2 linked regions of the Homo sapiens genome follow. The protein of the gene in region 2 purifies or fractionates together with the protein of the main gene of each other region. This does not show direct contact. Each region holds a gene or a part of one and is shown on either strand. Other genes may lie near its edges.

The links. The genes of interacting proteins can lie anywhere in the genome.
Region 1: the proteins of TPH1 (region 2) and MCM10 purify together in Homo sapiens (affinity purification with mass spectrometry; 2 studies listed by BioGRID and IntAct, with this or other methods). This does not show direct contact.

What each region holds. Positions count from the first base shown.
Region 1 is NC_000010.11:13,196,058-13,199,557, forward strand, and holds part of MCM10 (protein MCM10 homolog), read left to right. Parts: intron 1-1,565; coding exon 1,566-1,710; intron 1,711-2,631; coding exon 2,632-2,750; intron 2,751-3,500. UniProt on the Homo sapiens protein: Acts as a replication initiation factor that brings together the MCM2-7 helicase and the DNA polymerase alpha/primase complex in order to initiate DNA replication. Additionally, plays a role in preventing DNA damage during replication.
Region 2 is NC_000011.10:18,036,270-18,039,769, forward strand, and holds part of TPH1 (tryptophan 5-hydroxylase 1), read right to left. Parts: intron 1-3,500. UniProt on the Homo sapiens protein: Oxidizes L-tryptophan to 5-hydroxy-l-tryptophan in the rate-determining step of serotonin biosynthesis.

The DNA of each region.
Region 1 (3,500 bases), on a different chromosome or scaffold from region 2:
CACCACGCCTTGGCTAATTTTTGTATTTTTTGTAGAGATGGGGGCCTCCCTTTGCTGCCCAAGCTGGTCTTGCACTCCTGGACTCAAGCAGTCCCACCTCAGCCTCCCAAAGTGCTGGGACTACAGGCATGAGCCACTGTGCCTAACCAAGAATCCTTTAAAAGAAATCTTACACAAAAGTCCAGTCCCATGACAGGTGAAAGCTGAGTTGCTGCGGCTGAAGTAGGGGTAGGGCACCCAGAGCCCCACCTGCCCACTTCCTGAGTGCCCCAATCGAGCCTCTCTCTTCCCTTAAGTTAGCAGCTGCAGCCAAATGAAGGGCAAAGCTTGCTGTATGCCAAAACCTTACCTATAATAATAACAACAGGAATACCTACAATAACCATGGCACATGTCCATATTACTCAGTACTTGTGATATGTGTGTGCCATGTATTTACTATGTTTATTTATTTATTTATATATATATTTTTTGAGATGGAGTCTCGCTCTGTCACCCAGGCTGGAATACAGTAGTCCGATCTCGCCTCACTGCATCCTCTGCCTCCTGGGTTCAATCAATTCTCTTGCCTCAGCCTCCCGAATTGCTGGGATTACAGGTGCCCACCACCATGCCTGACTAATTTTTGTATTTTTAGAAGAGACAGGGTTTCACCATGTTGGCCAGGCTGGTTTCGAACTCCTGACCTCAAGTGATCCACCTGCCTCAGCCTCCCAAAGTGCTGGGATTACAGGCATGAGCCACTGCGCCCGGCCAGGAATGTATTTGCTATGTAAAGATTCATACTTTGCAGATATTATCTTATTTCATCCATACAACCATGACCTTCAAAGGTAGGTCAATGCTATATCATCATTTCCTTCTCTTTTTTTGTGTGTTTGTTTTGAGACAGGGTCTCACTCTGTCTCCCAGGCTGGTGTACAGTGGTGCAATCACAGCTCACTGAAACCTCCATCTCCCTGGGCTCAGGTGATCCTCCCATCTCAGTCCCCTGAGTAGCTGGGACTACAGGCATGCACTACCATGCCCAGCTAATTTTGTACCATGCCCAGATGAAGTCTCACTGTGTTGCTCAGGCTGGTTTTAAACTCCCGAGCTCAAGAAATCCACCTGCTTCAGCCTCCCAAAGTGCTGGGTTTACAATGAGCTACCATGCCAAGCCCCATTTCCATTTTATACTTGAAAAATTAAGTAATTTTCCTTGGGTTACAAGCTAGTCCGTGGCAGAGCTGGCTGGAACTTTATCTTAATTCTCTCTGATTCTAAAACTTCCAAAATGGTGATGTGGCTCCTTTATGGATCTGGAAGCCTGCAGTCTTGCTGATGTCAAACTTGTTATATTTAAATAAACTAAGATTTTATTCATCAACATATAGACCTGTCTCCCATGCTATTATATTCTAGTAATTGTGTTAATAATACTAAGTAAAATTAAGATATGTTCTGCCAATTTCTGTCAGAGAACAGCCAGAATTCACTGGTTACTAATAAAAAAGGGATCCAGGTCTATAAGTGCCTCTGTCATCTTTTAGATCTTTACCTCCCTCTCATTCCCTTTTTTCTAGTTAGCTGCTATCACCAAATTAAGGGCAAAAGGCCAGGTTCTTACAAAAACAAACCCAAACAGCATTAAGAAGAAACAAAAGGACCCTCAGGACATCCTGGAGGTGAAGGAACGTGTAGAAAAAAACACCATGTTTTCTTCTCAAGGTACTGCAGTTTCACAGTTAACAGTGGGAAAGAGAAACTGTTTCTAAGGGAAATATGTTCTAAACCCAAACCAGCACCCAGATATCAAGCAATTACTTCCATTTCCTCCTATATAGAATACCTAAATAGAATTTCTATGGGTGGAACTGATTTTTTTTTTTTTTTTCATGGAGTCTTGCTCTGTTGCCAGGCTAGAGTGCAGTGGCGCAGTCTTGGCTCGCTACAGCCTCTGCCTCCTGGGTTCAAGCGATCCTCCTGCCTCAGCCTCACGAGTAAGTGGGACTACAAGCGCGCGCCACCACGCCCAGCTAATTTTTTGTATTTTTAGTATAGATGGGGTTTCACCATGTTGGCCAGGATGGCCTCGATCTCTTGACCTCATGATCCGCCCGCCTTGACCTCCCAAAGTGCTGGGATTACAGACGTGAGCTGGAACTGATTTTTTTATAATTACATTAAATTGGAATGAAATTGGGCACAATTTGAATACTTGGGAATAGGATTGCTCATTGGATCTTTGTACATATATATATTAGCATAAAGATTTACTTTGACAGAACTAGAATTCCTTTGTTTTAAATTGCCATATCTTTATTTTTAAAACTCTGAAGTTGGCAATATCATTTTAACATAATTGTCAACATTATTTACACTGTTGTTATCTGTTACTATCGTCAGCTGCCTATTTGAAGGTGAAAAAGAGATTCTATTTAGTGGTAAAATCTGCCACCACCCCACATTCTAGGCTCAGCTTCTTGGCTCACCTCTGAGAGCTTTTCCCTGCTGGGACCAGCGGGGGTAGGTCAAGTTTGAAGGGCTGGTAGGCAGAGGAGGAGGGAGTGGGAGGGAGTAGAGTTGATGAGGCGCACTGGCTTTCTGAAATTTCTTGGTCGCTGCTAATGTTTGTTCCTTGTGCCCTAGCTGAGGATGAATTGGAGCCTGCCAGGAAAAAAAGGAGAGAACAACTTGCCTATCTGGAATCTGAGGAATTTCAGAAAATCCTAAAAGCAAAATCAAAACACACAGGCATCCTGAAAGAGGTAAGAGCCCAAAAGCTCAAGGATGGTGTTGATGTCCGATGTCCTTCAAAGCCAAGGTGCTAGCTGTAGGACCAAGAATGTGTTGTTTGTTTTATTTTGTTTTTCTGAGACAGAGTCTCAGTCTGTGGCCCAGGCTGAAGTGCAGTGGCGCCATCTCGGCTCAATGCAAGCTCCGCCTCCCAGGTTCAAGCGATTCTCCTGCCTCAGCCTCCCAAGTAGCTGGGATTACAGGTGCCTGCCACCACACGAAGCAAATTTTTGTGTTTTTAGTAGGGACAGAGTTTCACCGTGTTGGCCAGGCTGATCTCTAACTCCTGACCTCAAGTGATCCTCCAGCCTTGGCCTCCCAAAGTGCTGGGATTACAGGCGTGAGCCACCATGCCCGTACCCAGCCAAGAATCTGTTTTTTACATAAATCTAAAAGTAGGTATATGTCAGTTTGTTTGAGTTTGCTTTGAAGAACAGGAGAATTTCTAATAAATTTTAGCTTTGTCCTTGTCTCTTTACTGAAGAATATCATTTGATTTAACATGACTTAAATAGATATCAATATTATAAAAATGTTTGCATTTGGTTATGGCTGTGAAATTATGTTTAAATGGCTCTACACTGCTGCTATTTTCTGCCTTGCAATATGCAAAAAGAGTTTTCCCATTCCAGTATTTTTATATTGGCATTTCAAATGCTCTAAATCAGTAGTTAACCCCATCACACCCAAGGACCCTTTTTAATAACAAGTATTTTGTATTG
Region 2 (3,500 bases):
TTTTTAGTGCTGCCAACAACAAAATAATTCCTTCTTAAAAATTATGTATTAGAAAACTTTTCAAAATTCATCCCATCCTCCAGAAACCAATAAAATAACACACACTAGAGGTCCTTCAGATGTCAGAATTAATCAGAATTCAAATCAAAATATTATTAAGTTTCCTGGGTAAGAGGAATCTTTTGAAAATTCTCATAAATAAAAGCTAGTTTTCAAAAAGTGATACCAATGTTAGTCCTGGAGAAAGAAGAGTTTCCCTTTCAAAAATCCATTTAATTAAATTAGATGAACAGCTTGAGCACAGAGTATTTAATACCTCAAATCTCTTAAGCTACAATCTTAGTAACAGCTGAACCAGATCTCCTCTTCTGACCTCTCCCAAGTCAGCCTAAGATGGGGGTGCTCTGTGTATAAGTGTGGGAGGAGGGTATGTTCTCTTACCAATTTGGGTAGCTGAGGAAGAGTGCTGGGGACATGATAATGAAACATGAGCACTAATCACCCTATAGTTTTTTCATCTAAAACAATGAGAAGGTTAGAGCAGATAATCTCCAATACTAACCAGTGCATCCTAAAATAACTTAATGAACACCTGTGTAACTAGGTAAGGGCTGCGAAGAATATAAAGGGAAGACATAAAGGAATTTAGAATCTAGTTGGTGAACACATGGAAGATTAAGAAAATAAAGTAAAGAGTGTTCGGATGCAGGTGCTCAGCAAAGGGAAAAGCATTACGACTTAAGAGAGAGTAGAAAGTTTCATGGAGCAGGTGGGAACTTAAATGAATCTTAAAGAATAGATAGAATAGGCCAGGCGTGGTGGCTCACGCCTGTAATTCCAACACTCTGGGAGGCCAAGGTGGAAGAATCACTTGAGCCCAGGAGTTCAGGACCAGCCTGGACCACATAGCAAGACCCTGTCTCTACAAAAAATAATAAATTAGCCAGGCGTAGTGGCGCACACCAGTAGTCCCAGCTACTCGGGATACTGAGGTGGGAGGGTCACTTGAGACCAGGAGGTTAAGGCTACAGTGAGCTGTGATTGTGCCACTGCACTCCAGCCTGGGTGACAAAGTGAGACCCTTTCTCAAAAAAAAAAAAAAAAATATTATCAGGGAACATGAGCTAACAAGAAAGAGGAGTGAGTGATAGAGGATGTTAGAAAATTAGAATAGGCAGGGTTTATCTGGGAACATATAATTTATCACAGAATCAATAGAAGTCAGTTACAAAATATATTGGGATTGATCAGGTGTAAAGAAGAGTTTCATTTCATCTATTTCTTATAAATTTTTACATTAATAATGCATTTGTAAATATTTTCTAAATGATGACTTGAATAAATATAAAGCTAAACTATGTCTTTGGAGAAAAAAAAAGATGCAAAAATGTCAATCATTCCTAAATTAAAATCTCAATGGAATTTGGTGAGGAAATGTAATTAAATAATTTCCAAGTTCATCTGGAAGAAAAATACGGTCTGGAAAATTCAGATAAAGTAGAAGTAGTAAGTGAAACATTCCCTATCAGACATTTCAGTTACAGAAACAGAGGCATAGAGAGGTTAAGCAGTTTGGCCAGAAGCACACAGGTGACAAGTGTCAGAGCCGGAATTCAAATCTAGTCTGTCCAGCTCCACAGTCCATGTGCTTAAACACTATGCTGTAATCCTGTTGCCCAAGAAAGGAAGAGTCACAAAGGTGGATACTAAGGCTCTTCTTCAAACAATATTTACATAATCTTAATAATAAAGACACTAAAGATTGACAGAGCCAAAAACCGGGACACAAATACATTGGGAAGACGAGTGGAAAAGAAGTTGAAGAGGCCATCGGAAGGGGAGTTGTGTCAAGAAACCTAAATTTTTACTTCATTGTTGAAAATCAATAGATAATTACCTATAATTCTAGAAATCAAGAAGTAGAAGCAGAATAAGCATATAACTTATAAGTGTGGAAGTAAATATTAGAAAAATAGTTTAAAGAGTTGAAAATGGTTGCCTCCACTAGGCAGGGGATAACTAGGTTGTCTCCACTAGGCAGGTGGAGACACACCCAGAGAACACCATGTAGCAGTTAGAAGAATGAATGAGATGTTCACACAGCAGCGTGCATAGGTCTTAAAAACACAGTGCTGGATGGGAAAAAGAATCTTTATAGCACAATATGATTATATAAATTACTAATATACGCACACACAAAGACTACATATTCTAAAGTGCAGACAAAGTAATTCAATGTACATATCAAACATGAGAGCAGCTCTCTATCAGAAGAGAGAAATGGAGATAGAATTCAAGAATGAAATAAAACAGGAAGAGGTTGCACAAATCAACGATGATAGTGTACACGTGATTTAATGAGTGTGATTAACTCAAGCTTCTGCACACAAGGTTGCAAAAAAATTAAATGGAACTTTGGAATGAAGAGAGATGGAGCAAAACACTACTTTTTTAAAAATATGTTTTATAGTACAGGTTGAGTTGTTTTTAAGCTATGCACAATTATTCTTCGATTAAAAATTAAATTTAAAAAAAGCTGATGGAAGAAGACATACAGGTATTTTATTTAAAGACCCAAAGGTAATCAATAGAATAGCTAAAAGTAATAATAAAAGTATCAGATTTGGAAGGACTGGGAGAGGGAAGGGAGGGAGGTGGTATCAGTATCATTGTTCATAATAGAAAGTAAATGAATATAGTGTGAAGTTGATAACTTGAAAAGACATATAAGAGCAATGTTTAGATTTCATAAACTCACCACCAAAAAAACTAACGACCAGAAATAGTTAAAAGAGGTTGCCTCTAGGGAGTGGGACTGAGAATATGGTATGTGTTAGGTAAGAAAACTGATGCTTTTCATTACAAGCTCTTCTAGACTATCTATATTTAAGATTTTTAATTCTTTGAAATATTCTTTGCAAACAGCTATATAATAGTATGTCATATGATTATTAACATAGCTAACATCTATTGTTCACTTACTTTGTACTGTACCATCCTAAGCATTTTAGAGATATTAACTCTACTAATGCTCACAATGACCCTATGAGGTAGGTAGAGTTCTCATTTTATGGACATAAATCATGAAGTGTGGAGAGATTAATCAATTTGCCCACGATCACCCAGGTAATAACTGACAGAGCAAGGATATGAATCCAGGTGGCCTGTCTCTGGAGACCAGAGCTTAACCACAGTGGTGTTCTGCTATCACAATTCAACATCCCCTATATTAGGACAAGTGGCTTATTTATAATTTTTAGTTCCTATAAACAATAAATCTTTGTGTGTCCCTGAGCCCTTAAACTCAGTTAGGTCCCCCAAGTTCAATGCTGTCAGAATATCTGGTATTTCTGTTTCATGTCACTTTACACATAGTGATTATTCACTTACTGCAGTTGTTTGTTTAATGTTGCCTTCCCCACTAGATTACATACTCTGTGAGGACAGGCACTGTGTTTACTTTGTCCAGCTCCACATCCTTAGTGTCTGGTGTGGTACCT